Regions from separate parts of the Homo sapiens genome. Here regions 1, 2, 3 and 5 are each linked to region 4. The links come from fine-mapping of genetic effects on gene expression. A gene starts in region 4. Each other region holds a variant in brackets. All regions are shown on one strand. Distances are between the middles of the regions. Region 1 overlaps GAS7 (growth arrest specific 7). Region 2 overlaps GAS7 (growth arrest specific 7). Region 3 overlaps GAS7 (growth arrest specific 7). Region 4 holds the start of GAS7 (growth arrest specific 7). Region 5 overlaps GAS7 (growth arrest specific 7).

Region 1 (6,477 bases), 180 kb after region 4:
CCTTCTGTAAGGTCCTGAATTTCCTCGTTGCGGGAGACCTCGTGGTCATCAGTGCCTTGCGGAGAAGGGACGGCATCATTATTGCTCTTTCCTGGGTGGGACACTGAGGTTCACAGGTTGGGTCCACTGGCTCTCCAGCTCCTGTAAGGAGTGGTCTCCTCACTGCCCAGCCCTCTCACCAGAACGCACTGGCCAGCTCTCAGGCTGTTAACCTCCCCAGCAGGTGTTTGCCGTTCAAGTCGGGTAGTATTGGAAACAGAAACCTCAGAGAAGTGACTGTTGATGCTGACATTTCAGACAGAGGGATGGTGAGGCTAGGGTGGAGGTCCGTATCGCCGTAGACGGACTGTGTGAAGCCCTTCCAGTGGAAAACCCCATTCATTGCGCATCCCTCAGGACAGGCGCTGCCCTAGGTGCTGAGTTACGTATTGTTACCCTCTCCGTCGTCTTCCACAACTGGGCTCATATTATCACCCTTCGTTTCACAGATTCGAGAATAGCCTGGTGAGTCAGTAGCCTGTGGTCACATGGCTGTCAAGCGGTCCAGGCAGGATTGGCACTGAAGGCTGTTTGAGCCTGAGGGCTGTTTTCGCTGTGCCTGTGGGTTCCTGTCTCCTGCACCCCTTTTCTGACCATGTCAATATTTGATCCTTCCTATTTCCTCCCAAGTTATTTGGATAAGTACCAATATGGCTTTCCCATGTTTGATTGAAGGAGAAACTAGAATATTTCACTCAAGGGGAGGACACCTGGCATCTTGCCCCTCTGGTTCTAGAATCTCTTTCATCAAACACTCATGCCTGTAGTTGTATTTTTTTGTTCTTTGTTTTGAGACAGGGTCTCACTCTGTCACCCAGGCTGGAGTGCAGTGGTGCGATCACAGCTCACTGCAACAACCTCCTAGGCTCAGGCAATCCTTCCACCTCAGCCTCCTAAGTAGCTGGGACCACAGGCGTATGCCACCACACCCGGCTAATTTTAAAAATTATTTGCAGACGGAGTCTTCCTATGTTGCCCAGGCTGGTCTCAAACTCCTGGGCTCAAGCCATTCTTCCACCTCGGCCTCCCAAAGTGCTAGGATTACAAGCGTGAGACATTGCACCTGGCCCTAACCCTCAGTTTTAATCCCCTGACCCCCCACCCATGCCGACTTTATTTCTAATCCTATTGGACAGAATGTTCATCTCCTGTGCATGGGATACTTCTCTTTCTCTCAACATGCACGCGCGCATGCACACGCACACACACGCACACATGCACGTTGTTATAATCCTATTTGTCTTGCATATATTTTGGCTATCTTCCAATCCTGGAGAGTCCAAAGCAGTGAGAGGGCCCAGGTAAACCTGCCCAGATGTGGGCTTGTGCTTACTGGACATGCTGGTGAGACAGCAACCTGCGACCCTGGTGGGATGCCACACCGTGTTGATCCTGGCTGCTGTCCACCTCACTGTCTCCTGCTGTCTTAGAAGACAGTCTTCCATACGGAATCAAACGGGCACTGCAGGTTAGCAGGTGTAGGAGATGGAGCGTCCAGGGCATAGGGGAAAGCTTTTAATTAAGTTGTGAAAATGCATTGTGAAACTTACACCGCAGCTACGCAGAGGGCAGAAGGGAGGCTGTGTTTACTCAAAGTCCCCGAGCAGCTCAGATTTACTCGTTCCCTCCAATGACATGCAGGGCACTACGGGAAGCCACGGCACGTGGTTTTGCAACCTTCACAAAGCGTGAGAGTAGCCTGGGAGCTGTGTGTCTCTGCTGCTCTCTTTCATTCTGTTATCTTGTTTTCCTAAGCGGGGGTCACCAGGGACCACCACTATGGGCACAGCTGGGGGATACTGAGGACATTTGGGAGCCGATTACCTTTACTGTTTGTGAACAGTCCCCTGGCTTTGCTGAGAAATTCATGGCTACTCTCTTCGTATGGCTACAATTCTGATTTTAATCAATTTACTTCAAAAGGCACAGCAATCTTACGGGCTAATTTGGACTCTCTGTCCTAATTTTAAAATGTTCTTTAGCTAACAACTTTTATTTCTGTGTTTATGGGAGAAAATTTAGGGGGAACAGATATGTAGAAAGGAGAGTATAATAATTGCCTGTAATCCCAGCACCCAGGGATCGTGGCTGTTTTTTGTTTGTTTGTTTTTATATTTTTGTTTGTTTGTTTTGAGATGGACTCTCACTCTGTCACCCAGGCTGGAGTGCAGTGGTGCGATCTCTGCTCACTGCAACCTCCGCCTCCTAGGTTCAAGCAATTCTCTTGCCTCAGCCTCCCGAGTAGCTAGGACTACAGGCGCACACCACCACGCCTAGCTAATTTTTTGTATTTTTAGTAGAGGTGGGGTTTCACCGTGTTGCCCAGGCTGGTCGCGAACTCCTGAGCTTAGGCAATCCGCCCGCCTCGGCCTCCCAAAGTGCTGGGATTACAGACGTGAGCCACTGCGCCCGGCCATGGTTGTTTTTTTTTTAGCATCTGTCTACTAGATATCTAGTTTCTTTGTATGTCATATACATTTTTCTCTGATTTGTTTTTTAACGAAAAGTAATTCTATACATGGTTAAAAGAATTAATTGCACATAAATGCATACAATGGGAAGTCAGCGTCTGCTCTGTCTCCGAGTCCTCGTTCTTTTTGCCAGAGTGATCTGGACCCTTGGCGAGAGAAGCTCCATCCAGCTCTTC[A/G]TGGATTCTCAGCATTATTATAGAATGTTTTGCATCTGGCTGTGGGATGACTTGCATTAATTACTTCTGCTAGGTTTGCACAGCAAGCCTGGGGCCTTGTCTGCTGCTGTGCTTCGTGGTCTGGGAATTTCAGGCTTCAGATTTCACAATGGGAGGTGGTGGAGTGACAGGGCCCCCTTGCAAGCTCAGCACCCCGTGAGTGATTTTCTAGGGGGCCGTGGAGAAAGTCTAGCTCCATTAGCTGAATGGCATTTTCCTCTCTGCTCCCAGAGGAGCTGTCCTCTGTGCAGGGGCTCTGAATGCTCAGGTGCTTCTCACTGCTCATGCTCACGCAACCCCGGAGGTCACGTGTGTGCTGCCTCTGACCTCAGGGGTTTATGGGCCGCAGACTTCCCAATGTCACGCTACTGTAGGGTGAATTCATCAGCCTTTGCCTTCCTGGTTTAAAAACTCTTGCAAAAATGCCAAATGGGTGTGACCTTTTCTTTCTTCTCCAACAGAAGCCTGGAATGGTCCCCCCTCCGCCGGGAGAAGAAAGCCAGACGGTCATCCTTCCACCTGGCTGGCAGAGCTACCTGTCGCCTCAGGGCCGGCGGTACTATGTCAACACGACCACCAATGGTGAGTCCCGCTCGGGGGAGAATCCTGCACCAACCCCCTGGCATTCTGGCTCTCTAGAGGGGCACGTTTTTTCTCCCTTCTTCGCCTCTCTGTTTGGGGGTTTTTTCTTCTTAAGTCTATGCTCAGGGGCTACAGTAAAGTCTTACTCCTCCCACTGTGCTGGGTGGTAGGGGTGCAAGTCTGGGTCTGTAGTTCTGGGAGTATCTTGGAAGGAAGGCTGCCCTTTATGGTTTGAGTCTTCCTTGGACCCTGACGTCCACCCTGGGTATCTGTGTTAAACCCAACCTGTTCGTCTGGGGCTGGGTTTTCTGAAGGGTGTCTCAAAAGGTTCTATGGTCAACAGCTGGCTTGAATAAAATGAACGAGGCAAAGTCACTGCATGATGTCTTGGAATTTTGAAGGTTTTAATGATCTTGAAGCTTCAATACAGGGGTTGCAAATGCGAGGTTTCCCTAATTTCACTACAACGTCATCTTTTTCCTTAAGTATCTCACTGGCTGGCATTTCTCCAGATGTTTTTTGGGAAATGCCGGGGGTGCTTATGGGTTATTTATCCCATCAAATAGTACAGGTTCCATGTGCATCTGAGTTGAATAGGACCACACCTCAATGACCCCAATAATTAGGGACCTCCCAGGCCTTCAAATGACCCCAGGATCCCCAGAAGTTTGCTGTGGATGGTTTATAAAAGGGGATGCACCACGTGGCAGGTTCTGTAACAAGGTGAGCAAAGGGCACTGTTGCAGGCTGTGGTCTTGGGCAGGGCAGGACAGGGTAAACCAGCTGAACAGAGCTGTGTCTTGACCTCCGTGACTCCCCAGAGAAATTGCCATGAGAGAACTGAGAGGATTTAAACCAAGGAAAGTTAGATTTAGTGGGAATCACAGACATGCGTTCCAAGGCAAAAGATGAAAATCGTACCCAAGTCCACTGCTGGCTCAGCCTTGGCCTCTCACTCCTCTGTGCCTGCCTGACTACATGACCACCCCTTCCCACCTGGGGGTATCGTTACTACAGCTGATGTTTATAAGCCTGCACCAGGAGGGGGTCCTAGTGACAGGGGAGCCAGCTACTGTTTAGCAGAGACACAAAGAAGGCAGCTGGTTTATTCGTATCCCCTGGCAACCTGACCTTCCACAGGCTCAAGAGGGGTGTTCTAGCGCAAGAGGTAATGAAGTTTCTAGGAAAAGGGAAGTAGGACTATTTCTGACCGTTCTAATCTTACACTTCCTCAAAACAAACACATGAACAGCTTTGCACTGTTACCGGAGACTTGAAATTTCAGAGGAGAGTGTGTCTATGTATGCAACACCCATCTGCCAAACACAGAATTTGGACCGTAGGATCATGAGATCATCAATTATTTGGGACAACATTGGATCCAAATTATTGGAAGGTCAGGTTGCTAGGGGATATGAATAATTTGGATCCGTTATTGTCCCAAATAAGCTACTCTATTGCAAAGGGGCATGGGGGGAAATGGCTTTCTGAATTTCAGCATCTTTATCTTTTTTTAAGTTAGAGACTAGTTTGTTTTCACGGTAAAAAATTCAGTAAGTACAAAATGATTTCAAATAAAAAATAATCCCCGGTCTCACCTTTTAAACATATGTATACTTATTCTTTTAAAATAAATTGGAAAATATTGTCTATGTTGTCCTTTAAGTTACTTTGACAGTGTATGTGGACATCTTTCTATACTTTGTACATTTCAGTCTAACCCATTCTTTTAAACAGCTGTGTAGTAATCCATCGCATGGGTATGCTATTAATTTCACCTGCACTCTATTAATTTAAGTCATATTTTATATCAATAGACAGTGTCTGGCAGCTTTTTTCTGGGACTCAGACTTTAGCAGATGCCACTGGTGACAGCTTTCTTATGGGTCCTGAGATATTGTGATCCCACAGAGGCTCCAGGCCAGGGGTCAGTGAACTTTTTCTGTAAAGGGCCAAGTAGTCAGTATGTAGGCTTTGAGGGTCACATGGTCTCCATCCCAGCCACTCAGCTTTACTGTTTCAGCATGAAAGCAGCCCTGGATGATAGGTAAACAAATGAGTGTAGCTGTGTTCCAATAAGACTTTATCTATGGATCCGAAAATAGGAATTTCAGATGACTTGTGTGTGTTATAAAATATCATCGTTCTGGCCAGGCATGGTGGCTCATGCCTGTAATCCCAGCACTTTGGGAGGCCGAGGCAGGTGGATCACTTGAGGTCAGGAGTTCCAGACAAGCCTGACCAACATGGTGAAACCCCGTCTCTACTAAAAATATCAAAATTATCCGGGTGTGGTGGCGGGCGCCTGTAGTCCCAGCTACCCGGGAGGCTGAGGCAGGAGAATCGCTTGAACGCGTGAGGTGGAAGTTGCAGTGAGCCGAGATCACGCCATTGCACTCCAGCCTGGTGACAGAGCAAGACTCCGTCTGTCTCAAGGAAAAAAAAAAAAAAAAGTGGAAGATGATTTTCGTTGGCAAGTTCACTGGGCCATATGATAGTTGGTTTGACCAGTTGGTCCCTTGGACCATAGCTGCTGGTCCCTGCTTCAGGCTGTCTGTTGGCTCCACAAGGACTTGTCCTATTTGCCCTTCCTCTCTTTATTTATTTATTTATTTATTTATTTATTTATTTATTTATTTATTTTTTTAGACAGGGTCTCACTCTGTTGCCCAGGCTAGAGTACAGTGGCACAATCATGGCTCACTGCAGCCTCAACCTCCTGGGCTCAAACACTCCTCCCATCTCAGCCCCCTGAGTAGCTGGGATTGCAGGCATGTGTCATCACGCCCGGCTGATTTCTTTATTTTTTTATATTTTTTATTTATTTGAGACAGGGTCTCACTCTGTTGCCCAGGCTAGAGTGCAGTGGCACGATCATGGCTCACTGCAGCGTTAACTTCCTGGGCTTAAGTGACCCTCCCACCTCAGCCTCCTGAGTAGCTGGGATTACAGGCATGTGCCACCACACCTGGCTTTTTGTATTATTATTATTATTATTATTATTATTATTATTATTATTATTATTTTTTGTAGAGATGTTTTGCCATGTTACCCAGGCTGGTCTTGAATTCTTGGCCTCAAGTAATCTACTGGCCTTGACCTTCCACAGTGTTGGGATTACACTATGCCTAAAAACAGTTTTTTTTGTTTTGTTTTTTTTTTTTTTTTTT
Region 2 (6,477 bases), 120 kb after region 4:
GCCTGTAATCTCAGCTACTTGGGAGGCTGAGGCAGGAGAATCACTTGAACCTGGGAAGCAGAGGTTGCAGTGAGCTGAGATTGCACCATCGCACTCCAGCCTGGGGGACAAGAGCGAGACTTTGTCTCAAAAAAAAAGATAAAGGGAAGGGATACTGGGCAGCTGAAATAACAGGTATCTGCTGTAGTGATCTTGGACAAATCTCACTTGGGGCCTCTTTTCTGAAAAAGAGACGCCAGGACCAGCTGATCTCAACGGACCCTTTGACTTCTAATAGGACCACTATGATTATTAAATAGACAACTCTACCACTGGGAAGAAATGAATTAACATTGTAAACCACCTTAGTTTTTTATTCTCCCCCTAAAAATTCCTGCCCCCACCAATATAGGCCATTGATAACCCATATTTTTAAAGTCTGTTTATATTTATTTTTATTTTTTTGAGATGGAGTCTCGCTCTATTGCCCAGGCTGGAGTGCAGTGGCATGATCTTGCCTCACTGCAAATTCCACCACCCAGGTTTAAGCAATCCTCATGCCGCAGCCTCCCTGTGAGAGCAGCAGGAGGCAGCCAATGCCTAGGTAGGCAGGGGCAGGTCCCTGTGAAACCTCACCTCCAGGCCGAAGACAGCTTAAATCCTGAAAGCCAAGCTACCATTTAAATCCTTGGACCAGACTGAGAACTTGTCTTCCTGTTTGGTGTGCTTTCCTCTGATTGATCCCTACCCTTCACCTATTTTATGTATACCTACCCTTTCCTAATTGGTTTTCTGTACTGCCAGGCCCACTTCTGCGTGGTGTCTTTGCTTTAACCTTTTTTGCATACTCACAAACCAATCAGCATGCACTCCCCATTCTGAGTCCATAAAAGGCCCTGGACCCAGCCACATGGGGGACTTTCCTGCCTTCAGGTAGGGGGACCACCCCTGTGTCCCCTCTGTATTTAAAGCTGTTTCATCATTCAATAAAATTCTTCTCTGTCCTCCTCACACTTCAATGTTCAGTGCATCCTCATTCTTCTTGGATGTGGGACAAGAACTTGGGAATCAGTGCACAAGCCAGACTTGGCCTGGGAAGGCCAACTGGGCAGGGCACCTCCTGCGGCAGATAGCATGCCCTGGGCAAGGCCTCTGGCATCGCCAGCCAGAAGTCCCTGACTGGCAAAGGGACCGAGAAAAATCCTGCATCACCGAGTCACTGGGATTACAGGCGTGCACCACCACACCCAACTAATTTTTGTATTTTTAGTAGAGACAGGGTTTTACCATGTTGGCCACGCTGGTCTTGATCTCCTGACCTCAAGTGATCCACCCATCTCAGCCTCCCAAGTGCTGGGATTACAGGCATGAGCCATCACACCTGGCCTAAAGTCTGTTTAATTTTTAATAAAATATTTAAGTCTACAGAAAATTACAGAGATGTTAACAAATGTATCTGCCATTCGTATTTTTAAAATCAACTTTACTGAGCTATAATTTCTCATGAAATTTATTACATGCGTACAGGCCAATGAGTTGACAAATGTATACACCCTTGCAACCACTACTTGAATTAGTCAGTGTGTAAGACATCTTCCCAGAAAGCTCTCCTTTGCCCCTTTGCAGTCAGTTTCTCTCCTCTGTACCCACTCATCTCTCCAGGTCACTTCTGAATCTGATTTCTATCCTCTAGGTTAGTTTTGTTTGTTCTAGAGTTTCACAGAAATGTGTCATGCAGTATGTACTCTTGAATGTGGCTTCTTTTGCACAGGATAATGTCTGACATTCATCCTCATTGTTGTACCAATGGTTCACCCCTTTTTATTGCTAATGAGAATTCCATTAGTTGAATTTACTGCAATTTGCTTATCCTTTTGTCAATTGATGGACATTTAGGTTGCTTCCATGATTTAGCTATTATGAATAAATCTGCTGTGAACATTTGTGTATAGGTTTTTCGGACACATTTTCACTTTTCTGGCATAAGTACGTAGGAGTGAAATTGCTGGATCATATGGTAAGCATGCATTTAACTTTATAAGAAATGGCAAAACTATTTTCCGAAGTCACTGCTTCAATTTCCTCATCACAGCAGCGTATGAGCTTCTGTTGTTCTACCTCCTTGCCAGCATTAACAAAAATTCTTTTAGCCATTCTAGGGAGTATGATGTAGTTTCCCATGGTGCTTTTATCTTGTATTTTCCTGAAGGTTGATGATGCTGAACATTTTTCATGTGCTTATTACCATCTCTGGATTTGACAAGTATTAACATTGGCCACATGTCAGTCAGAAATAACACATTATTTGACATTAAAAATCCTGTGTGTTCTTCCAATTCCTTTCCCTTCTTTCCTTCTCTTCCTGGAGGCAACCACTGTTCTGGGGTTGGTATGTGTTTCCCATGAGCATGTTTAAAATCTTTATTAACGTGTGTATATCCAAAATACTGTTTAGCAATGTCTTGTTTTGAAACTTACATGAGATGTGCCATACGATATTTATACCTTGGTAATTTACTTTTTTCACACAATGTGTTTTTGAGTTTTTTTCGTGTTGGTGCATGTAGAGCTAGTTCATCTTAACTGCTGCGTACTGTTCTAGCATGTGCATGGGCCACCTTTATCTCCATTGGTGGACACTTTAGGTCATTCTAAGCAATGGTGTAATGCTTATCCTTATGCCTGTCCCCTCGTGTACCGGCCTGGGTATTTCTTGGGTCCATATACCTAGAAGGAAAATATCTGGGTCTGAGAATGTACATCTGGACTTTCCTAAATAGTGTCAAATTGTTTTTCTGAGAGGTTTTGCAAATGCAGACTGCCACCCACAGAGTATCAGAATTTCCATTTGCCTTGCCAACACATCAGACTTCTTATTTTTGCCATCCGAGGGTGTGAAATACCACACCTTGGATTTAACTTGCATTTGCATTTCCTTCATTGCTAGTCAGGTCGTGTCTGTTTTCAAATGTTTATTTACCATTTGAATTTCCTCTCTTGTGGGTTTCCTGTGCATTCTCTGCTCATTTTTCTATTTCGCAGTCTTTCAGTCATTGCTTTACCGCTTCATTTTCT[A/G]ATGATGTATTTTGTCATGCAAAACTTTTTTGTTGCAATCTAGTCAAATTTATTAATCGATTACTTTAGGGATTTTGCTTTTTATGCCTCATTTAAGAACTCTTGGCTGGGCACAGTGGCTCACACCTGTAATCCCAGCACTTTGGGAGGCCGAGGCGGGTGGATCACAAGGTCAGGAGTTCGAGACCAGCCTGACCAACATGGTGAAACCCCGTCTCTACAAAAAAATACAAAAATTAGCTGGGTGTGGTGGCACATGCCTGTAATCCCAGCTACTCAGGAGGCTGAGGCAGGAGAATCGCTTGAACCTGGGAGGGGAAGGTTTCAGTGAGCTGAGATCGCGCCATCGCACTCCAGCCTAGGCAACAAGAGCGAGACTCCGTCTCAAGAAAAAAAAAACTCTTATGGTGAGGTCATATATGGTCTTAACTTTTCTGAAAGTTTTAAAGATTTTTGTTTGATGTTGAGATCTTTGATCCATTTGTAATTTCCTTTTATTGTTTGTTATAAGGCAAGAGCCCAATTGTACTCTTTTTCTGAGGAGCCTGTCATCTTGTTATTACTTATTTTAAAAAATCCCTCTATTCTCACCTCGCTGATTTGATGACCACCTTTGCTGTATGTTTTTATAAATGTGTGTTCTGTTGCTGGGGTCTTTCTTCTGGTTTCATTGGACTATTTGTCTATCTGTTCACTATTTTAATTGTAACTTTGCAAGAAGTTTTACTATCTGATGGAATAAGTCCTCATTCTTCTTCAAAATTGTCTTGGATGTTCTTGGCCCTTGACTATTTCCTGTGAATTCTAGGATTACCTCCTTGAGTTCTATGAACAACTATTGCATTAAAATGGCACTACGTTTTGAGATTAATTTGAGAAGAAAGATCTCCTTGGTAATATTGGGCTTCCTATCTAGAAACAAGTTGTATATTCCCATTGATCTAGATCTTCTTTATTGTATCTCAGTGTTACTGGAAAGGGGTCCTGAACCAGACCCCAAGACAGCGTTCTTGGATCTTATGCAAGAAAGAATTTGGGGAGAGTTCATGGAGTAAAGCTAAAGCAAGTTTATTAAGAAAGTAAAGGAATGAAAGAATGGCTACTTCATAGGTAGAGCAGCTCTGAGGGCTGCTGGTTGCCTATTTTTATGGTTATTTCTTGATTATATGCCAAATAAGGGGTGGATTATTCATGAATTTTCCAGGAAAGGTGGCAGGGGCAGGGGGCAGTTCCTGGAACTGAGGGCTCCTCCCCTTTATAGACCATATAGGGTAACTTCCTGGCATCTGTCAACTGTCATGGTGCTGGTGGGAATGTCTCTTAGCATGCTAATACATTATAATTAGCGTATAATGAGCAGCGAGGATGACCAGAGGTCAGTTTTGTTGCCATCTTGGTTTTGGTGGGTTTTGGCCGGCTTCTTTGGCACAGCCTGTTCTACCAACAAGGTCTTTATGACCTGTATCTTGTGGCCACCTCCTATCTCATCCTGTGACTTAGAATGCCAAATCTACTAGGAGTGCAGCCCAGTAGGTCTCAGACTTATCTTTTACCCAGCCTCTATACAAGATGGAGTCACTCTGGTTCAAACACCTCCAAAGTCAGTACATTACATTGTCTCCATATAAGTCTTTTACTCTTTAGTTATATTTACTCATAGCTCACTTATAGTTTTGTTGCCATTGTGCGTGGTGTATTTTTTTTCTTTAAATTTGATGTTGTCAATGAAAAGAGTGAAACTCTGTCGAATATTTGAAGAGTTTTATTCTGAGCTAAATATGAGTGACCATGACCGTGTCACAGTCCTCAGGAGGTCCTGAGAACATGTGGCCAAGGTGGTCAGGGCGCCGCTTAGTTTTTATACATTTTAGGGAGATATGATCAGTCAAATACATTTAAGATATACATTGGTTTGGTCCAGAAAGGTGGGACAGCTTGAAGCTGGGGTTTCCAGGTTATAGGTAGATCTAAAATTTTTCTAATTGGCAGTTGATTGAAAGACTTATCAATAGAAAGGAATGTTGCAATAAGAGACCAAAGTTTCATCATTTAGATGAAGCCTCCAGGTAGCAGGCTTCAGAGAGAATAGGTTGTAAGTATTTCTTATCAGACATAAGGTCTGTGTTGAAGTTAATGCTGGAGGGTTGTAATGAAGCATGTCTGATCCCCATTTCCCTTCATGATCTGAACCAGTCTTTCAGGTTAAACTTTAGAGTATCCTGGCCAAGGAGGATGTCCATTCAGATAGTTGGAAGGACTTAGAATTTTATTTTCGGTTTACAGTGTTTATGTTTATTTTTATCAAAGTAATAGAGTTTTAAAAGAGCATTCTCCTACCATACTCCACCCCAAATGCTTCTCAGAGTCCACCACTTGTAACAATGGGGCTTTATCTCCATTTGGGGTTTTTGTTATTTTAGAGAGAAGGGTTTGCTGTGTCACCCAGCCAGGAGTCCAGTGGTGTGATCATAGCTCACTGCATCCTCTGCTTTGGTCTGTCGCTCTTCAAGTCTGAACAGTTGTCATCTTGATCTTTCTTCACCATCATCTGATTACTTTCCTTTCTTTCTCTTCTTTCTCTGCTCAAGCGATCTTCCCACCTCAGCTTCCCAAGTAGCTGGGACTACAGGAATGCACCATCACACCTGGCTAATTAAAAAAATTTTTTTTTGTAGAGATAGAGGTTTTGCTATGTGGCCCAGGCTGGTCTTGAACTCCTGGCCTCAAGCAGTCCTCCCGCCTTGGCCTCCCGAAGCACTGGGATTATAGGCATGAGCTGCTGCACCTGGCCCTTTTTCTAAATGATATGTTTATACTGTTGTATATCCCCCTACCTACCAATTTTACACACTGTCTATTGAACTTCTTATTGCAGAAGATTAGACCTGGCTTTTCCACCAACACTTTACTTTTTCCTTTCCTCCATATATAACCTCTTCCCTCACCTCCCACAATGGTGGTCCTATGGTGATATCAGGGTCTGGTGTTTATATTATTATGCCAGTGTAAATTACAACTGAGCTACTGATTGCCTTCTACTTCTTTGGTGGAACAACAACAAGAAAGCAAATAAATAAAAACAAAAGCAATTGGTTTTATTTACTTGGTTTTCTCTGTCCCTTGCACCAATTCTTCTCTCTTCACTAGCCCTTTAAAAACTTCCACAGGCTAGGTGCGGTGACTCATGCCTGTAATCCCACCACTTTGGGAGGCTGAGGCAGGTTGATCTCTTGAGCCCAGGAGTTTGAGAGCAGCCTGAGCAACATGGCAAAACCCCATCTGTACTAAAAATACAAAAATTAGCCAGGCATGGTGGTGCACGTCTGCAGTTTCAGCTACTGGGGAGCCTGAGGTGGGAGGATTGCTCAAGCCTGGGAGATCGAGACTGCAGTGAGCTGTGATTGCACCACTGTACTCCAGCCT
Region 3 (6,477 bases), 82 kb after region 4:
ATCACCTTCTGACATTCTTTAGAATTCACTTTTTTATTGTGTTTAGTGTCTGCTCCCCGCAACCCATTCCCACCTCATGCTGGAGCCGTCACTCCAGGAAAGCAAGGGTTTATTTCCCTTCTGCTTTTTTCATTGATGTGCCCCCAGATACTTAGAAACAGCGCCTGGTGCATGGTATATGCTCCATAAGTATTTGTCAAATGAATGAATGGCTGAAAGTGCCCGGAAGGCACTCAGCAGTGCCATCTGTCCCTGGGGACAGATGTAAGAATCCTCTTACAGTGCATGTCACCATGTGGCATGTGTACGTTGTGCTGGTGTCCAGTGGGAGGGGAACACTTGCCTCCTCTGGGAGGTGCTGCACAGGCTGGCCACCTGCGCTGGGCCTGCTTGGTCCTCATGGTTAACTGGGCCCCGGGGGTAGGACCACCCCCCTGATAAGTTAAGACAGCCCAGAGATACACAAGGGCTTTTTTTTTTTTTTTTTTTTTTGGAGACAGAGTCTCACTCTGTCCCCCAGGCTGGAGTGCAATGGCGCAATCTCAGCTCACTGTAACCTCCGCCTCCTGGGTTCAAATGATTCTCCTGCCTCAGCCCCCAGGGTAGCTGGGACTACCTCCATCACACCTGGCTAATTTTTGTATTTTTAGTAGAGACGGGGTTTTACCGTGTTGGCCAGGCTGGCCTCAAACTCCGGACCTCAAGGGATCCACCAGCCTTGGCCTCCCAAAGTGTTGGGATTACAGGCGTGAGCCACTGCGCCCAGCCCACGAGGGCTTTTTGGAATTGACTGGCAGGGCAGTGAGGGCCCCCAGGGCAGGCCGGAGAGGCTGACCAGGTAGTGAGTGGAGCTGTTCACAGATGAGGATTTTGAGCCTGTGGTTGGGCTGCATTCCAGAATCCAGCTGTGCTCCCATGACTTCCTTCCCACCTTATGCGCTGTGAGAAGCGGAAAAATACCTGGCTGAGAAACCGAGGGCTCAGGCGATATCCCTGTTTACTCCATCTCTATCATCTTGTCTTGCAACGAGTGACTGACTTAGAAATGTAATCCGGGATGGTCTTGGCTGTCTCCACGCCCTGGAGAGCAACAGGGTCCTGGTGCTGCCTGTTACCCTCGGGGAAAAGTGCAGACCCAAGTAGGTCCAGCTGTGTCCTTGACATCTCCACTTGTCCTGTCCAGGACGCAGTTGCCTAGCCCAGGTCTGGGCTACAGTGGCTTCTCACAGCTCAGTAAATGGCTAGTTTGTCCTTCCAGCCGCTGGAGGCAAAAACCTTGACTCCCCTTTTTTTCTCACATTCCACATTCAGCATGTTGAGAATGCAGGTTGGCCCTTCTTGCAAAACAGATCTTTAAACACAGGATCACTTCTCACCACCCTACCACTGTAGCCTTGGACTGAGCCACAGCTGCCACCACAATGCTGCCGGGCTGTTGCAGGCGCCTCCTGGCTGCTCTGCTGGTCCCTAGTCTGTTGTTTTCACAGGAAGGGTCTGAACACATCGTGCTTCTGCTTACCACAGTCCAGTGGTGCCCCATGTCGGCAGAGTGAAGACGCGGAAGCCCTACAGTGGCTGATGAGGTGCTACATAATTGGGTCCCCATTGCTGTCCTGACCTCAGCACCTGCTCCTCCCCGTTGGTCTCACTCCTGTGTCACTCCTGCCTCTGTCCTCCGCCTTCCGTGGTGTTTCTTTAAATGTTCCAGGCATGCTTCCTCATCAGGGCCTTTGCAGCCCAACTCCCTGTGGGGGCTGAGTAATGGTCCCCTGAAGATGTCTACCTTCTAATCTCTGGAGCCTGTGAATATGTTACCTTCTGTGGCAGATGGGATTTTGCAGTTGTGATTAAGTTGAGAACCGGAGATGGGGAGATAATCCTGGATTATCCACGTGGGCCCAGTGTAAGCCAAGGGTCCTTATGAGAGGGAGGCAGGAGGGCCAGAATCAGTGTTAGGAGATGTGATGTTGGAAGCAAGAGGCTGAGTGACGAGAGGAAGGGGCCGAAAGCCAGGGAAAGTGGGTGGGCTCCAGAAGCTGAGAAAGGCAAAGAAATGGATTCTCTCCTAGAGCCTCCAGGAGGAACCAGCCAGCCCTGCAGACATCTTGACTTTAGCCCTGTGAAACCTGTTTCAGACTTTTGACCTCCAGAACTGTAAGATAATAAATTTTCATTGTTTGAAGCCCGTTAGTGTATGGGAATTTGTTACAGCAGCCTCAGGATATGAATAGACCTCTTTATCTCCTTTCAGTCTCTCACTCACTCTGGCAGGTCCACCCCTTTGCTCTGTTTTTTCTTTTCCCCCCCTCATCATTTATCACCTTCCAGCAAAACTGGATCATTGACCTGTCTGTCTGGCTTGTTGTGGGTTGTGTATCTCCCCTGCTAGAATGTAAGCTCCCTGAGGCATGGATCTTTGTCTTGTTAACTGATGTATCCCAGTGTCGAAACCTGCGTCTGGTGTATAAGAGGTGTTCAAGAAACCTGTGTCGAATAAATAAATGAATGAATATGAATGAATGATTCCTTGGTCTGGAATACCTTCTCTTCCCATTGTCTCTGCCAGCTGCCCTCTAAGTCCACTTCAGACCCACTCCCTACCCGCAAGAGCTCTCCTGTAAGTGACTTCCCTGGCAGGATGCGGCTGGTGCTATCTGCTGGTCACCTTTCCTGAGCACCCAGTGGCTGTGAGCAGCCCGGCCAGTTGCAGAGACCCGCTCAGCCCAGGGCACTCTTCTTCAGCTTGCATTCCCCGGGGTAAGCCCTGCAGCAGCCAGGTACTCTGGAGAGTATTCATTTTGTTCCATGCATTTCTTACAGATGAGCACTGTCAGAGTCTAAGGGACCCAGCTGATCTCTAAACCCAACATTTTTTTTTTTTTGAGGCAAGAGTCTCACTCTGTCCCCTAGGCTGGAGTGCAGTGGTACAATCTCAGCTCACTGCAACCTCCGCCTCCTGGGTTCAAGCAATTCTTCTCCTGCCTCAGCCTCCTGAGTAGCTGGGACCACAGGCACACGCCACCACACTCGGCTAATTTTTGTACTTTTAGTAGAGATGGGGTTTGGCCATGTTGGCCAGGCTGGTCTTGAACTCCTGACTTCAAATGATTCACTTCCCTTGTCTTCCCAAAGTGCTGGGATTACAGTCGTGAGCCACCATGGCCGGCCAACCCAACCTCATTTTGATGATGATCTGGAGAGGTGAGGGGTCCCACCAAGGTGCTGAGCAAATTTCTAGGGCTTCTAAGTCTCAGAAGTCCTGGTTGGATGATCTGTTTGGGAGAGCTCCTTCTCTCCACTGCCACCCCCAGGGACAGCGTGCCTCACTCGTAGAAGGTACTAAGAATTTGCCTGGATATTGGAGCTTTGGAATCTGTCATGGCTGGGGAGGTTGGTGAGTGGGGCACGGTTTTAAGGGAAGGTATAAGGTTCTCCCCAGGGACTAGGGGCGGGGGAGACCAAAGGATTTGTCTTGTTGTTAACAACAGTAGTATGGAGGATGGGGAGTTTGGAAAAAGGAAAGGAAGAAAAGACAAGAAATGGTAATAAGTATGGGCAAGAGTTGTGTGCCCACAATGGACACCTCATGCTAGGGGACCCCCAAGTGTATGGACACTGCCAAGAAGGGGCAAGGAGGGATGAGAGAGGCCTTCTCTGTGCTGAGGTGTGCTTCCCCGGGGCACAGCTGCAGCCTGTAAAGGGTGAACAGTTAGGAACACTTCTTTCTGCTGTCTTCTCTGGGGAGGACACGTGTTGCAACACTTCCTGAGTTGGGGAGGAGGTGACACTTTGCCCCCCACCCTCCTTCAGACTGCTGATGAAGTGTGCTTAGTTATGAACCTACAGCTGT[G/A]TTTTTGCAGCGTTCCCCCCGCCTGTGCACCCGCCAGTCCCACGGGGGGCTCCCCTCCCTCCTTCCGTCCCTGGTCCTTCCCTCTGCTGGCTGGTGACTCACTCAGCTCTTGTGCAACAGCCCAGGCTCTCGCTCAGAGAAGAGCTGTTTTCCTCCATCCCATAAGCCCCCGTCCTAATTTATGTCTTTTCATTTGGGTTAATGCTTTCCACATTTAGGTCTGGAGATTAGCGTGTGGCTCATTGATGCAACCACCAAAACCCCAGTGCCAGCTTGGGTCTGGCACAGAGAGGCAGCCAGCCAGCCAGCCAGACAGACAGACAGACAGAGGACAGCTTGGAGCATGACCCCCAGCCTGTTGGTCTGCAGCTGGCCCAGCCCTGCCAGCCACAGAGGCAGAGCGAGGAGGCAGCCCTGACTCCTGGCTTGCCAGAGAATCATTCTCATGCCAGTTTCCTGTGAAGGACACGCATCTTGGAATGGCGTGAAGAGGAGATTGCCCCAAGCCTGTGACTTCTCATTGAGGAAACTGTGTGTCGGGAAGTGAGAGGCACAAGTTCTAGGGTGTGGAAAAATGCGATCTCTGTGGCTTTCAAAGCTGTCACACAACACAGTGTGTGTGTGTGTGTGTGTGTGTGTGTGTGTGTGTGGTTTTTCTCTTCTCTTTAGAACAATAATATTACCTTTGTTGCTATGGTGTTGTTATGGGGGTGGCTAATTGGACACAGCCCTGATGCTGGCTGGTGTGTGGTGTCCATAGTGATTATCAGACGGCAGCCATGGGACCTGCTTTGATTTTCTTCCCTGGAGTGAGAAGCAGGCAGAGGATCACTCGGTGGCTGTGTATACCCTGCCTTTGGTGGTGGCACCCCAGTCAGAAACGGGACCCTGAAGCTGGGATTTAGGTAAGGGGAGGACCTTTCCAAGGCTTGTTTACAGCTCAGATTTGCAGAGGACCAGGTATTTGGGAACTCCTCTTCTGAAGAACCAGATTGCAGGGCAGGGCACAACGAGGGGCCTGTTGCATCTTGGGAGCACAGGGCTGTGTGCTCTGGTAACCTGGGCCCACTCACCTGGCAGGCACTGGCTTCCTTCCCAGTGAGACTGTAGCATTGACGGAAAAGTGCATGGTGGCTCATGCCTGTAATCTCAGCACTTTAAGAGGCTGAGGCAGGAGGATTTCTTGAGCCCAGGAGTTTGAGATCAGCCTGCGCAACATAGGGAGACCCCCATCTCTACAAAAAATAATGAAAGAAAAAAAAAGATTAGCCAGGCGTGGTGGTGCATGCCTGTAGCCCCAGCTACTCGGGAGGCTGAGGCAGGAAGATCACTTGAGCCCGGGAGGTTGAGGCTGCAGTGAGCTGTGATCACACCACTGCACTCCAGCCTGGGCAAGATAGCAAGACCCTATCTTGAGAAACAAAAGAGACAGAAGTATGTTTGGTCAGTATGTATACCCAAAAGTATATCTGTTAATTTTATACTTATCAAATAGGTAATATATGCTCAGGTCTGATATCTGAAAGGTACAAAAAACGTAGAGTGAAAAGTTGGTCTCCTTCCCATCCCTGTCCTCAACCTATCAGTTCCCTTCCCGAGTGGCAAACAAGTGATCAGTTTCTTGTGGGTACTTCCAGAAGTAGTCCAGGAATTTCCAAATATGTTTCATTTTATTTTCCTTAACCCAGGAAACCGTGTGTCGGGAAGTGAGAGGCACAAGTTGTAGGGGGCGGAAAAATGCGATCTCTGTGGTTTTCTGAACACAGGTATCCCCTCTATACTTCTGCACCTTGCTGGTGCTACTGATGCTTTTTGTTAAATCATATAACATATCTTGGAGTTTAGTCAATAGGAAGAGCTTCCTCCTCCTGTTTAATGCCTGCCCCACTCATTTCACCAATGGGCATAAAGGTTGCTTCTAATCTTTCTCTGTTACCTTTACCTGTTGCTGCTGTGGATAGCCTCGTATATCCATCATTCTGCACGTGGGTGAGGGTCTCTGAAGGGCAAGTTTCTGAGGTTGAAAGGTTGGAACAAAGAATATATGTGTTTGTAGTTTTGACAGAAAGGGCCAGATTGCCTCTAACAAGACTGTTCTAGCTTACACTTCTGCTAGCAGCGAGTAGGAGTGCCTGCTTTCCCATAGCCTTGCCAGCATCGTGCACTTTCAGATTTTTTTTTAATTTCTGCTTGGAAAAGTTTGTCTTTACTTTCTGTTGAATTTCTCTCCCATGGCTCCCCCACTCTATTGCAGCCTCCCATGCAGGCAGTGAGTGGATGGGGTCCCTCTCTGCTTCCCTGGGCCATAGGGAGTGGACCCTCAGAGGACCCTCTGTCTTGCAGATCGTTGGGTGGACTTGGTCTAGCCTCTCTGCAGGCCAGTCGGTTGTTTTACATATAGATCTTAAGGGAAAGAATCCTTTGCAACACTTGAATTTTCTACTTGTGATGACACTACTGGACTCTCTTTTCTCTTTTCTTTTTCTTTTTTTCTTTTCTTTTCTTTCTTTCCTTCCTTCCCTCTTTCTTCCTTTTCTCTCTCTTTTCTTTTCTTTCTTTCTCTTTCTCTCTTTCTTTCTTTCTTTTTTCTTTTCTTTGTTTGTTTTTGAGATGCAGTTTCACTCTCA
Region 4 (6,477 bases):
GAACTTTCTCTTAAGATGCTATTTGTGGGTGAGTCACTAGGATACCTGCTTTCTGACTGGCAGGGGGGACGACAGAAAGCAACACCAGTGTACAATAAGCTAGAATTGAGTTCAAAGCTGATTCTGCTGTTGACCAGCTGTATGATGGTGAGCAAGTCACACTCTTTGAGCCCAGTTTCTTTACCTGAAAACTGGGACAACAGTCACCTCATCAGCTCGTAGGATTACAGGAATGAAATGAATTAAGTGGAGAAATTAACAGCTATTATCATTTTTGGTTGCTGCAGGAATGTTTGAGGTGGGTCAGGTAGAACTCAAGTGTATGGCATGCTGTGTAGGCTGCGATTTCTCAAGTCCAAACTGGATCACAGTTCCTCACGGGCATGCAGAGAATTAGGGTTGCAGGATGGCTGGAAATCAGTTGTCCTACCTTGATTCAGGCCACATCATCAGGAATGAAGCCTCAGAACAGCCTGCTGGAAGTCACATATTTTCCTGATACAAGGAATTGTATCTCTTTTAAAACTTCATTGGGCCAGCTATTTTTAATGACTGTTTTTGATATGAAGTTATGCAGCTCCGCTTTAAGGGACTCTTAGTGGTGACTGTGGTCAAGAGTTTGTTTCTTTATATTTCCGGCCAAGCGAATGTTCAAGACTTTGCAATTGATGGACTATTACAAATAATCTGCTTGTGTCACTTTGCCCATGGCCAGAGAACAGATGGAGGCTGCTCAGGTGAGATGGCTTAGCTGCAGACTAGGGCTCAGTAGTGACTCTTAAAACCTGGGCATGAGTATTTTTAAAAAGTTGCATAATGACTGTAATGTGCAGCCAGGATTGAGAACCATTGAACTAGGTGAAAGGCTCTGTGCCAGGGTCTGATTCAAAGCATAGACAGGTGCGCAAGATCTTCAGGCTCTTGGAGCCCGGCCTGACTGGTTTTGTAATGGATATCTAGGCAGTCATAGTAAGAGGTGAAGCTAGAGGAGGCGTTGTGGAGGGCCTGAAATGTACAGGCAGAGAAGTTTGTACCAAATTTAAAAGGCAATAGGGAGCCACAGAAGGTGACTGGGGGAGGGGGGAAGGAGTAGACAGAGGTATACAGGCGTATTAAAGGGTCCAGCTTTTTTTTTTTTTGAGACGGAGTTTCACCCTTGTTACCCAGGCTGGAATGCAGTGGTATGATCTCCGCCCACTGCAACTTCCACCTCCCGGGTTCAAGCCATTCTCCTGCCTCAGCCTCCTGAGTAGCTGGGATTACAGGCACCCGCCACCACGCCCGGCTAATTTTTGTATTTTTAGTGGAGATGGGGTTTCACCTTGTTGGCCAGGCTGGTCTTGAACTCCTGACCTCAAGTGAGCCATTCGCCTCAGCCTCCCAAAGTGCTGGGATTACAGGCGTGAGCCACCGCGCCTGGCCGAGTCCAGCTATTTACAGGCTAAAAAATGTACTTTATTTTATTTCTTTAAAATTTTTTATGGAGTAGACTAGCAAAGAAACCAAGCTTTCTTTTACTTCTGTACGGTCAGTTCAAGGTCAACATTCTGCAGCACTCAGGTTCACTGGTCCCTGGAGAGCAGGGACTGGCCCAAATGATGTTTGTAGTACCTGGCACATCGCATGGAACATGGCAGCCTCCTGGTAATGTTTGTTGACTGACTACATGAGTGTAGACTCTTTAGCCAACCCATCTCGATTTCGGGAGGGCTGGTACCCTGGGCCGGCCTTCCCTCTGCAAGTAAAAGCATTGGTGCTGTTCCTCTCACCGTTCGCCTTTCCTCCATTTATCCCCATCGACTGTTTCCAATTCTATCAACTCCGACCCCGTCTTCTCTCCATTCCGTCCCTCCAGCGTGCCACGCTGCCACCAGGCTGCTGGGCTCAGGCGCCAGGCTTCAAACCTGTCTTTCACCCATTGTTCAGTTTCCGGTGAGACAAGTTCAACCCCAGGTTCAACCACTACAATGACAACCACAAACGATCCCTCGCAGACACCTCGAAGAAGCCGCCCGCACGCCACGGGCCGCCAGGCCTACAAAGCAGGCACAGAACAGAGGGGCGTTTCCATTCCCGCGGTCCCCGGCGGTGGGGGCGCGAGTGGGAGCCCCTCTCCCCAGTGACAGGCCCCTCTGCGAGGGAGCGCGCAGCCCTCCGCGGGCGTGGCCGCCCTGGCCCCGCCCCGGCCCGCCCCCTCGCCAGTGAGCTAACCCCCGCCCGGCCACCCGGCCGCCAGCTCCTCTCCACGGCCGCCCGCCGCGGAGTCCTGCCGCGGGGGATGCTCCGGGTCCCACCTCCCGGGGGAGCTGCGCATTTCCGCGCGCCAGGGCGGCCCCGGCCCCGGTCCCGGCCCCGGCCCCGGCCAGCCCTCGCGGCGGCAGCCCGCGTTCCGCGTTCCCGGGAAGTTGTCTCCGGAGCCCGCGGCGCCTGGGTCTCCTCCCCCTGAGCCCCGCCCCCCAGCCCAGAGCTAGGATCCGCGAGCTGCCCGGCCCGGGGGCGTCGCCGCTCGCTCTGCGAAGCCAACGAGTCTCTGCTTCCCGGCGCGGAGCGCGCGTCCCCCGCCTGCCTGAGGACCCCCGCGCACCCCAGAGACGGCGCGCGCCCAGAGCGCGGGAGCCCGGAGCGCCGGGCGCCTGGGACCCCGCGGAGCCGCTGCCCAGCCCGTGGGGCTCGGCGGGAATGCAGGCTGCGCTGTGAACCCGGGCGCCAAGGCCATGTCCGGCGCTCGCTGCCGGACCCTGTACCCCTTCTCCGGGGAGCGGCACGGCCAGGGGCTGCGCTTCGCCGCGGGCGAGCTGATCACGCTGCTGCAGGTCCCGGACGGCGGCTGGTGGGAAGGCGAGAAGGAGGACGGGCTCCGTGGCTGGTTCCCGGCGAGCTACGTGCAGTTGCTGGAGGTAAGGGGCGAGGGCCGGGGCTGTAGGAGCCGGGGCTGCGGTCCTCGGTGCGCTCGCGTACCTGTTGCCCGTTCCGGGGATGCCGCAGCGTCCCGGTCGGAGGGGCGCCCCGGGGGGCAGCCCTTGCCGGCGCTACCTGTAGCTCCACGCTCCTGGGGGGCAGCGACGGCAGCGGGCGCCCCTCGGGGCGTGGGCAACGCGGACTCGCGGGGAGCTTCCACCTTGCGCCGGGCCTCCGGAGCACACCGTGGCTGCTCTGAGGAAGCGAGAACTTGTTGCCTGTGTGAGTTAAGGAGCAGGCGGGAGCGTTCCCGGCAGTGGCAGGGGCCGGTGAAGGGTCTGGCGGTCTTGGGAAGAGGCACGGAGGATCAGGGGTGCGAGAAAGTGGCACCGACTCGGTCCCGCAGCCCCGCGTCTCCACCCCGGAGTCTAGAGCCTGATGACCCGTGGACGGTCGTGCTGCCTTGGGTCAGGCTGCCTGGCCGCCTCGGGACCACCCACTTGCTGGTCAGCCGAGCCTGCTGGCCACCAGCCCGAGCCCCCTCAGCAGGCTTGATCCTGGGGTGCCGTAGCACCCCCCGCCACTGCCTGCTCCCCTGGTCCAGCTCCCCGAGGCTAAGGCTCAGAACCCGAAAGTGGCTTGTTCCTGGGGTTCTGGCCTGGCCCCAGGGCTGCACAGGACCTGCTGAGGCAAGGCGGCTGGCTGTTTATTGTCTATGTGACAGGCTGTCCTCTAATCACTGAGCTCGCAGTCACAGCCTGAGTGAGACCCGAAGTTTCTAAAGTCCTTTGTGTGTGGGGGGGTGACCTTCCAGGACATCCCCTTTACTAGAAGCCCGCCTGCCCCCAGGATTCTTGTAAAGACTAAATTAACAGTTACCTTCAATGGTGTCAGTATTCCTAAACATTCTGGTAAAACACTGCCGGAAGAAATCATGGAGGCTGAATTTATTTATTATTTAACTCTTGACCTACTTCACAGAGAAAGTAGCAAATTTTGACTGAGAATGCTCAGTGCAATTCATCGGGGGCGGGGGGAAGAAAGAAAGAAGTGAAATGGTTACAGGGTGAGTCCGCCTGAGGATGTATCCTGTGGCAACATTGTCAGCAAGAGCCTGGCCTTATAAAAGTACATTAGATTGCTTTCAGGTCCAGAGAACAACAAAATCTCTCCTAAAGGCATCAGTAGCATTTGAGCAAAGTTTAGGGGCTGCTGGAATGAGCTTTCATGGGCTGTCAGCAGAGTATGTTGCAGGAACCCTCTTGGTTCTGTATCTGGAGAATCCGGAGATACCCTACTTGTAGGAGAGGCTCAGGTGTGCCCTGCCCTGGCTTTTCCAGTTCCTTTCCCGAGATTCGGATGTAAAAGAAAGCGAACGTATTGCTTCTTACATGAGAAGCAAGGGGCCTCCTTGTTTCTAGCTTGAAGCCCTGGGATAGATACGTATTTTGGGAGTTCTTCGGGTGGTCACCCTTTTCCAGGAAATTCTGATGTGGAAATTTGGCTGATGGATGTCTGTCCGGTGAGGAGCATCCCTGGCTGGACTGAGCCAGCTGTGTTTTGTGTAGGGGTGAGGCTGGGTAGGTGTTAGTTAGCAAGAGTGGAGTGCTGCTTTTTCTTCCGGGAAAGGGACGATGGACCAGGGCCAGGGGACAAGCGGAATTAACAACTGGGACAGTTTTGGGTGTGTCTGTCCCATCCTCTGGCATATACAAAGGTAAGAGATCTCTGGTGTCTCAGGGCCTCTCAGACCATTCCTGACTAGTAACTTGCAACAGAAGCATCCATCTGCGTGAGCAATACTTCTGAGCACCTGCTTGGCACAGTGTGTGCACGTTATCACCAGTTCCCTGACAGCTCTGTGAAGGGTGAGGTACTTCCCCCATTTTATAGACAAGCAAGCTGAATATGAGAGAGGCGAAGTCAGCTCCCCAACTAGTAATGCTTGCGTGTTTTGTTAGCAGCTCAGATGACTGAGTATCACCCCCTGCGCCTGTGCCTTTTTTAAACATGATAGCCCGGGCTCAACTATGCCAAACAGCGTGTGAGCGAAGGGTCTGGATCCATGGGGAAAAGGGGCATGCGCAGCCCCTGAGGTCAGCATGTTGGTGACAGCACCGCGAAGGGGAGGCTGAACCTCTAGGGCTAAAACGAGGACAGCTGCATCCAGGAGCAACTTGGAGGATCTTCCCTGCTAACCCCAAAGTGTGACTTTACTCAGAACCAGCTGGGGGTCTTCCCACAGTGGGCCCGAGTCCTGTATCCTAAGTACTGGGTGGGACTCTTCTCAGGGCCAAAGCAGATGCAGTTTCAACAGGGGGGCATGTGGGTCAGGTGCTTGGCATCTGGGAACCTCCTACATGAGCAAGTTGGACCTCAAGGCTGAAGGCTAGGTAGAGATAGAGGACATGCAAGCAGAGTTGCTTGGGATGGGGTGAGTCCTGAAGGGCAGACTCAGAGAATGCAGAGGTCCCCAGGCTGGTGGGTAGACTGGCCAGCATCTGGACTCATGAGACTAGAGAGGGGGCCCATAGATACTGGAGATGGCGAACCTCATGAGATGTCAGCCAATGTGGTGCTGTCACTCAGCTTGCTTGGGAGCATGGAGTTCAGAAGGCCAGGGCAGCTGTTGGAGAAACAAGTACAGACAGATGGACTGTACTAGCCTCCTGGCCTAGGGATGGGATTGTGGGTACACAGATGAATATGGCATCTCTAATGTGCTCCCTACTCCAGCGGAACTTTCACCCTGATAGAAAGAGTGATACTAGGAAACCCCATCTTGGTGGAGGGGAGGGAGGCACTGAATACTGTGTGCACACTGGATACTTCCCAAGGAGATCTTCCTTGTTCAGATGAAGCAAGGGGAACCGAGAGACCCAGCCTTTGCAGGAAGCATACACGGGGGAGGGGAGTTGGGAGCTAACTCCAAGAGAGTCACCAGATCTGACCCAGTGGCCAGCTAGCCCTTGGGAGGAGGCCAGCTTGGAGGAGGTCTTGGTTTTTGGGGCAATCTCTTTGGTCAAGACTCCAAGGAAATGGTATAGCACATACTTGGCTTCCAGAGAGCAGCTTCCAGGAAAACCTCAGCACAGGCAGGGAAGTGTAGAGGTCTCTGGTAGGCCCAAGGACTCTGGCCACAAGGGTTCTTCCTACTCGGGGTGGTGCAGCTCTTCAAAGGATGGGCAGAGGGAAACACCTACCTCCAGAAAAGGAATAGGCCTTACAGCCAAGGCCCACAGCTGGTTATTAGATAAAATCAACTAGAAAAATCTTTCCTGAGGGTTTCTTCTGCTATGACGAGGGACAGGAATTAAGAAGTCTTTTTTTTTTTTTTTTTTTTTTTTTGAGACAGAGTCTCGCACTGTTGCTCAGGCTGGAGTGCAGTTGTATTTTGAGTAGAGGTGAGGTTTCGCCGTGTTAGCCAGCATGGTCTCGATCTCCTCACCTTGTGATCCACCCGCCTCGGCCTCCCAAAGTGCTGGGATTACAGGCGTGAGCCACTGTGCCCGGCCGAGAAGTCTTTTTAACATCATTTGAGAGATATGGTAGAGGAAGAGACCTGAGACCAGAGATAGG
Region 5 (6,477 bases), 89 kb after region 4:
ACATGTGGCTGGTGCAACTGCGGAAGTGGTTCTTTCATTTGGATTAATTTATATTGAGGGGCTGTATGTGTCCACTGACTACCATATGGGAGAGCACAGGTCTAAACTGTATGCTTTTAGCATGAAAATAAGAGTCTAAGAAGCAGAGTGTATCTGGTCTAGGTTTCCTCAAGTCGAAACACGGCAGCAGTTCTTCATCAGGGTATCCAGGCCCCATGACCTGGTCCAATTTTGGAACTCCCGAATTTCGCCTATTGGAAACACAATTGGGGTTAGGCTGCCAGACCCACCAAGGAGGGTCGCAATTCCCTTGGAATATAGGCCTCCCTTAAAGACTTATTTATTTATTTAGAGACGGAGTCTTGCCCTGTCTCCAGGCTGGAGTGCAGTGGCGTGATCTCGGCTCACTGTACCCTCTGCCTCCTGGGTTCAAGCGATTCTCCTGCCTCAGCCTCCCAAGTATATTTCTGGTTTTTTGTTTGTTTGTTTGTTTGTTTTTTTGAGACAGAGTCTCACTCTGTCACCCAGGCTGGAGTGCAGTGGCACAGTCTTGGCTCACTGCAACGTCCGCCTCCCGGGTTCATGCCATTCTCCTGCCTCAGCCTCCCAAGTAGCTGAGACTACAGGTGCACGACACCACGCCTGGCTATTATTTTGTATTTTTAATAGAGACGGGGTTTCACTGTGTTATCCAACATTGTCTCAATCTCCTTACCCATCATCCGCCCACCTCGGCCTCCCAAAGTTGTGGGATTACAGGCGTGAGCCATTGCGCCTGGCCATTTCTGTATTTTTAGTAGAGACGGGGTTTCACCATGTTGACCAGGCTGGTCTCGAACTCCTGACCTCAAAGGATCCTCCCATCTCAGCCTCCCAAACTGCTAGGATTACAGGTGCCAGCCAAGACACCCGGCCCCCTTAAGGACTTTTGATATCCATAGATGTACACAGCAGTTACTGACCTACAAGTTGTGGACACCAAAGCAAACTAGCCCTGTCTAAATAGAGCATCTTGTGTTATTTTACTTTTTAATCGACGCGTAATGTTTTACATATTTATGGGGTAGATGTGATATTTGGTTGCATGTATAGAATGTATAATAATTGATAAGTCAGGGTATTTGGGGTATCCATAACCTTAGCGTCAGTCATTGCTGTGTGTTGGGAACAAACATTCTTCTAGCTGTTTCAAAATGTGTGATATATTGTTGCTAACTATAATCCCTCTGCTCTGCTATCCAACTTTAGAACTTGTATCTTCTGGCTGGGCGCAGTGGCTCATGCCTGTAATCCCAGCACTTTGGGAGGCTGAGGCGGGCAGATCACTTGAGGTCAGGAGTTCGAGACCAGCCTGACCAATATGGTGAAACACCGTCTCTACTAAAAATACAAAAATCAGCCAGACGTGGTGACATGCACCTGTAGTCCCAACTACTTGGGAGGCTGAGGCTTAGACAGGAGAATTGGTTGAACCCGGGAGACGGAGGTTGCCGTGAGCCAAGATTGCGCCATTGCACTTCAGCCTGGGTGTCACAGCGAGACTCCGTCTTAAAAAAAAAGAAAAGAACTTATATCTTCTGTCTAACTGTATGTTTGTACCCCTTAACCAAACTCTCTTCATCCCCCCTCTTTCCCACACACCCTTCCTAGCCTCTAGTTAACTATCTACTCTCATCTCCACGAGAGCAACTTTTTTAGCTCCTACATATCAGTGAGAACACTGATCTTTGTCTTTCTATGCCTGGCTTATTTAACTTAACATAATAACCTCCAGTTCCGTTCATGTTGCTGCTAATGACATGATTTCTTTCTTTTTCATGCTGAATAGAATTCCACGGTGTATATATACCGCATTTTTTTATCCACTTGTCCATTGATGGACACTTAGGTTGATTCCATAATTTTGCTATTGTGAATCATGCTGCAGTAAACGTGTGAGTACAGGTATCTCTTTGATATCTTTTTTTTTTTTTTTTTTTTGAGACGGAGCCTTGCTGTGTCGCCCAGGCTGAAGTGCAATGGCACAATCTCGGCTCACTGCAACCTCCACCTCCCGGGTTCAAGTGATTCTCCTGCCTCATCCTCCCGAATAGCTGGGATTACAGGCGCCCACCACCACGCCCAGCTGATTTTTGTATTTTTAGTACAGAGGGGGTTTTACCACGTTGGCCAGGCTGGTCTCAAACTCCTGACCTCATGATCCACCCGCCTCTGCCTCCCAAAGTGCTGGGATTACAGGCGTGTACCACCGCGCCTGGCCCTGTTTTTGTATTTTTAAGTAGAGACGGAGTTTTGCTATGTTGGCCAGGCTGGTCTTGAACTCCTGATCTCAGGTGATCCACCTGCCTTGGCCTCCCAAAGTGTTGGAATTACAGGCGTGAGCCACTGCTCCTGGCCTGATGTCTTTTGATATCCTGATTTCTTTTTGTTTGGATAAATACCCAGCAGTGGGATTGCTGGATGGTATGGTTGTTCTATTTTTAGTTTTCTGAGAAGTCTCTGTACTGGTTTCCCCAGTGGCTGTACCAATTTGCATTCCCACCAGTAGTGTACAAGAGATCCCAT[C/T]TTTCCTCATCCTTGGCAGTATCTGTTATTTTTTATCTTTTTAATGATATTTTTTATCTTTTTAATGATAGCTGTTCTAACGGCTGTCATTAGCAGCAACATGAATGGAACTGGAGGTTATTATGTTACCTTAAGTTAAATAAGCCAGGCATACCCGTTCTAACTCTGGCGTAAGATGATAGCTCGTTGTGGTTTTAATTTGAATTTCCCTGGTGATTAGTGATGTTGGGTATTTTTTTATATGCCTGTTAGCAATTTGTATGTCTTCTGTTGAGAATGTCTATTCATGCCCTTTGCCTACTTTTTAATGGTTATTTTATTTTTATTTATTTTTATTTTTTTAAATTTTTTTTGCTGTTGAGTTCCTTGTATATTCTGGCTATTAGTCCCTCATCAGATAAATAGTTTTCAAATATTCTCTCCCATTCAATAGATTGTCTTTCCACTTTGTTGACTGTTTCCTTTGCTTTGTAAAACCTTTTTAGTTTAATATGGGCCCATTTGTCTATTTTTGGTTTTGTTGTCTGTGCTTTTGAGGTCTTAACTGTAAAATCTTTGCCTAGACCAATGTCCTGAAGTGTTCTTTCTAGTAGTTTTATAGTTTCGAGCCTTAGTTTAAGTCTTTAATCCATCTTGAGTTGATTTTTGTATATGGTGAGAGATAGGGGTCCAGTTTTATTCCTCTACGTATGGATATCCAGTTTCCTCAACACCCCTGATTGAAGAGACTGTCCTTTCCTCAATGTGTATTCTTGGTGCTTTTGTTGAAACTCAGTTGGCTGTAAATACATGGATTTATTTCTGGATTCTCTATTCTGTTCCATTGGTCTACGTGCCTGTTTTTATATGAACGTCATGCTATCTGGTTACTCTGCAGTGCAATTTTTAAATATCTGAGCTAAATACAAAGACAGATCCTCCAAAATCTGAAACTTTTTCAGGACTATATGATGCTCAAAGAAAATGCTCACTGGGGCATGCATTAAATAGAAAATCACAGTGCATGGTAGACACACTTGACAGCAATAAGTTAAGCATACCCTGAGAACGACCCTGTGTGGTAGATGCACCAGAATGTGTGTGTGGATTTCCATGCTAAAGAATCAGGCAGTGGCCAACTCAGAGATTCATTCCTTACCTATGAGAAACATCTGAGCCCTTGGCCCGTCCAGTGGAACACAGGCCATATGGAGGACCAAGGCCCTTTCTTTTGGGTTAAATGAAGGTTGCCAGGTGGAGGTTGTTAGGGAGAGGATGCAAAGCAAAAATGCTCTATAAACTGCATGCTTCAGGCAAGTGCTTGCAGTTCTCCTGCCTAGCTGGCCACGCTGGGCCATGTGGTTCTCCAGCCCAGCCCGCCACTGGACTGTGGTACAGTGATTCTCTTGCCCAGACCCCCTCTGGACTATGGTAAGGTGGTTCCCCTGCCAAGCCCTCCACTGGACTGTGGTAAAGTGATTCTCTTGCCCAGTCCCCCACTGGGACTGTGTGTAAGGTGGTTCTCCTGCCCAGCTCCCACTGGACTGTGTGTAAGGCGGTTTCCCTAACCAGCCCACCACCACTGGACTGTGTAAGGCAGTTCCCCTGCCCAGTCCCCTACTGGACTGTGTGTAAGGTGGTTCTCCTACCCAGTCCCCTACTGGACTGTGTGTAAGGCGGTTCTCCTGCCCAGCCCCTCACTGGACTGTGTGTAAGGCGGTTTCCCTAACCAGCTCACCACCAGTGGACTGTGTGTAAGGTGGTTCCCCTGCTCAGCCTGCCACCACTGGACTGTGTGTAAGGTAGTTCTCCTGCCCAGCCCACCACCACTGGACTGTGTAAGGCGGTTCTCCTGCCCAGCCCCCCACTGGACTGTGTGTAAGGCGGTTTCCCTAACCAGCTCACCACCACTGGACTGTGTGTAAGGTGGTTCCCCTGCTCAGCCTGCCACTGGACTATGTGTAAGGTAGTTCTCCTGCCCAGCCCGCCACCACTGGACTGTGTGTAAGGCAGTTCTCCTGCCCAGCCCGCCACCACTGGACTGTATATAAGCTACTTCTCCTTCCCAGCCTGCCACCACTGGACCACTCTGTATGTAAGTTTCCAGCTGATAAAACCCTGTGTCTCATTGGCTGGCTCTGTGTCTCGTCTTTGGCCTCTTGAACCTGGGGCCGTTCCTATAAAGGTTAATGGAGGCCCAGCAAGACAGACAAAGTAGAACTTCACCTTGTAGTGTTATGTAAGAGGAAGTGTGTTAGTTTCCCATTGCTGCTGTAACGAATGCCACAAATGCAGTGACTTAAAATGCATTTATTTACTCATAGTTCTAAGGATCCAAAGTCTGAAATGAGTTTTACAAGGCTAAAAATTAAGGTGTCGGCAGGGCTGGTCCTTCTGGAAGCTCCAAGGAGAATCTGTTCCTTCCTGTTTTCATCCTCTTGAACTCCTTCCTTGGCGCCTGTTTCCACCTTGGTGTAAGGAACCACCTTACCACAGTCCAGTGGGACTGTGGCATCAGCCTCTTTCTTCTTTGACCTTGTCTTCCTCTTAGACCCTGTGATTGCATTTAGAACCTACCCAGATAATCCAGAATAACTCCCCCACCTCAAAATCCTTAAGTCAGTCATGCCCTACAAAGTCCCTTTTGCCATATAAGGTAACATTCACAGGTTCTGGTGATTAAGATATTAATATATTTGGGGGGGGGGGCACTTTCAAGCCTACCACAGCGGGTATCTTTTAATAATTGAAGAAGAGCAGGTTTGTGTGAGAGGACGTTATTCGCCAAGTCGGTCACTCCCCAGGAGTTCTGAGTTGCTGGAATTGGTTAAGTGATCTTTAACTAGAGGCTGGGAAGGGTGTGTGGGTGGGAGCGAGGATGAAGAGAGGTTGAGCTATTCATGTTGAAGGTCTAATGCTCTAAAGATGCAAATCTCAAATCTCCTAAGGAAGGTGGAAAAAGTACAGAGATTCAGACTCTATCCTGCTTCCGTGAGCCTGGACCTGTGTGTTCTTCATTAGCTCTCCCGGTGATTCTGATCCTCAGCAAAGTTTGAGACTGTTGAATTTTAGACATGGTCTTGGGGATTATCTGTGTGCCTGCACATGGGATGTGAGACTTCTTGAGTAAGAGCCAAAGCTGGGCTGCAGACAGGTGCTGGAGAAGATCAGAGGAGGGGCCGGTGTCTGCGGAGGAGCCGCCACCCGAGCCACACCTGGAAGGTAAGAGAAGGTGTGGCCTTCCCTGAGAAGCAGGGCAGGTGCTCCAAGCAGAGGGAGAGGCCTTACCAGCAGCACCGAGGTAGGAATACGCATGGCACTTTTGGGGATGTGGAGGCTATTTGGGACCAGAAGATGGAGGAACCGGGAGTTGATATGACAAGAGGAATGTTAGTAGGAGTAACGTGCTAATGTTTGCAGGGTTGACTGGAGGGCAGAGGTAGGATTCTGTTTATAGTACTGCCCAGGAGGAGAGGATAAAGGCCCCGCCTGGGTGGTGGCAGGGATAATGATGAGAAGGTGATGGTTGTGAGAGACTCGAGAGGAAATACGAACATGGCAAGGTCTGGCAGTCCACTAACACTTACTGAGCAGAGTCATCGGGCAGATGCAGGAGGAGGAGCTGGAATGCAGTGGTGAGTAAGACTACCCAGGTCCCTGATCTCACGAGTATACTTTGGGGTGGAGAGGTGGGGTAGAGTTGGGGAATAAGCTGACAGACGCAAACAAGAAAGGCATGAGCTAGTGATACGTGCTCTGCAGTTACACGGGCTCATGCGATTGGGAGGAAGTGGGTGGCTTCTTTGGATTGGGAGCTTAGGGAAGGCCTCTCTGGAGCGGTGACGCTTAAACTGTTGTCTGGATGACAAGAAGCAGCTGGCCACAGGGAGGGGAAGGGGAACAGCATTCCAGGCAGAGGTGACAGCAAGTGCA

Evidence for each region. PIP is the estimated chance that this variant, and not a neighbour inherited with it, causes the effect.
Region 1: its variant is fine-mapped to the expression of GAS7 in whole blood (TOPMed, PIP above 0.99).
Region 2: its variant is fine-mapped to the expression of GAS7 in whole blood (TOPMed, PIP 0.97).
Region 3: its variant is fine-mapped to the expression of GAS7 in whole blood (TOPMed, PIP above 0.99). The same link has a PIP of 0.9 or more in lung.
Region 5: its variant is fine-mapped to the expression of GAS7 in whole blood (INTERVAL, PIP 0.91).

The regions. Positions count from the first base shown.
Region 1 is chr17:10,016,607-10,023,083 of GRCh38, reverse strand. It overlaps GAS7 (growth arrest specific 7), which reads left to right. Exons shown (of 14, transcript NM_201433.2): 2 at 3,187-3,307. Among named protein-coding and RNA genes, the nearest start is that of RCVRN, 110 kb to the right of the region's middle. The variant A/G (reference allele first, on the strand shown) is at 2,687.
Region 2 is chr17:10,078,135-10,084,611 of GRCh38, reverse strand. The region is part of intron 1 of GAS7 (growth arrest specific 7); the gene reads left to right. Among named protein-coding and RNA genes, the nearest start is that of GAS7, 120 kb to the left of the region's middle. The variant A/G (reference allele first, on the strand shown) is at 3,055.
Region 3 is chr17:10,112,720-10,119,196 of GRCh38, reverse strand. The region is part of intron 1 of GAS7 (growth arrest specific 7); the gene reads left to right. Among named protein-coding and RNA genes, the nearest start is that of GAS7, 83 kb to the left of the region's middle. RefSeq lists enhancers at 1-339, 870-1,399, 1,400-1,929 and a silencer at 3,884-3,943. The variant G/A (reference allele first, on the strand shown) is at 3,851.
Region 4 is chr17:10,194,628-10,201,104 of GRCh38, reverse strand. GAS7 (growth arrest specific 7) reads left to right here and starts at 2,499. Exons shown (of 14, transcript NM_201433.2): 1 at 2,499-2,897. The coding sequence starts at 2,715.
Region 5 is chr17:10,105,557-10,112,033 of GRCh38, reverse strand. The region is part of intron 1 of GAS7 (growth arrest specific 7); the gene reads left to right. Among named protein-coding and RNA genes, the nearest start is that of GAS7, 90 kb to the left of the region's middle. RefSeq lists an enhancer at 4,263-4,804. The variant C/T (reference allele first, on the strand shown) is at 2,566.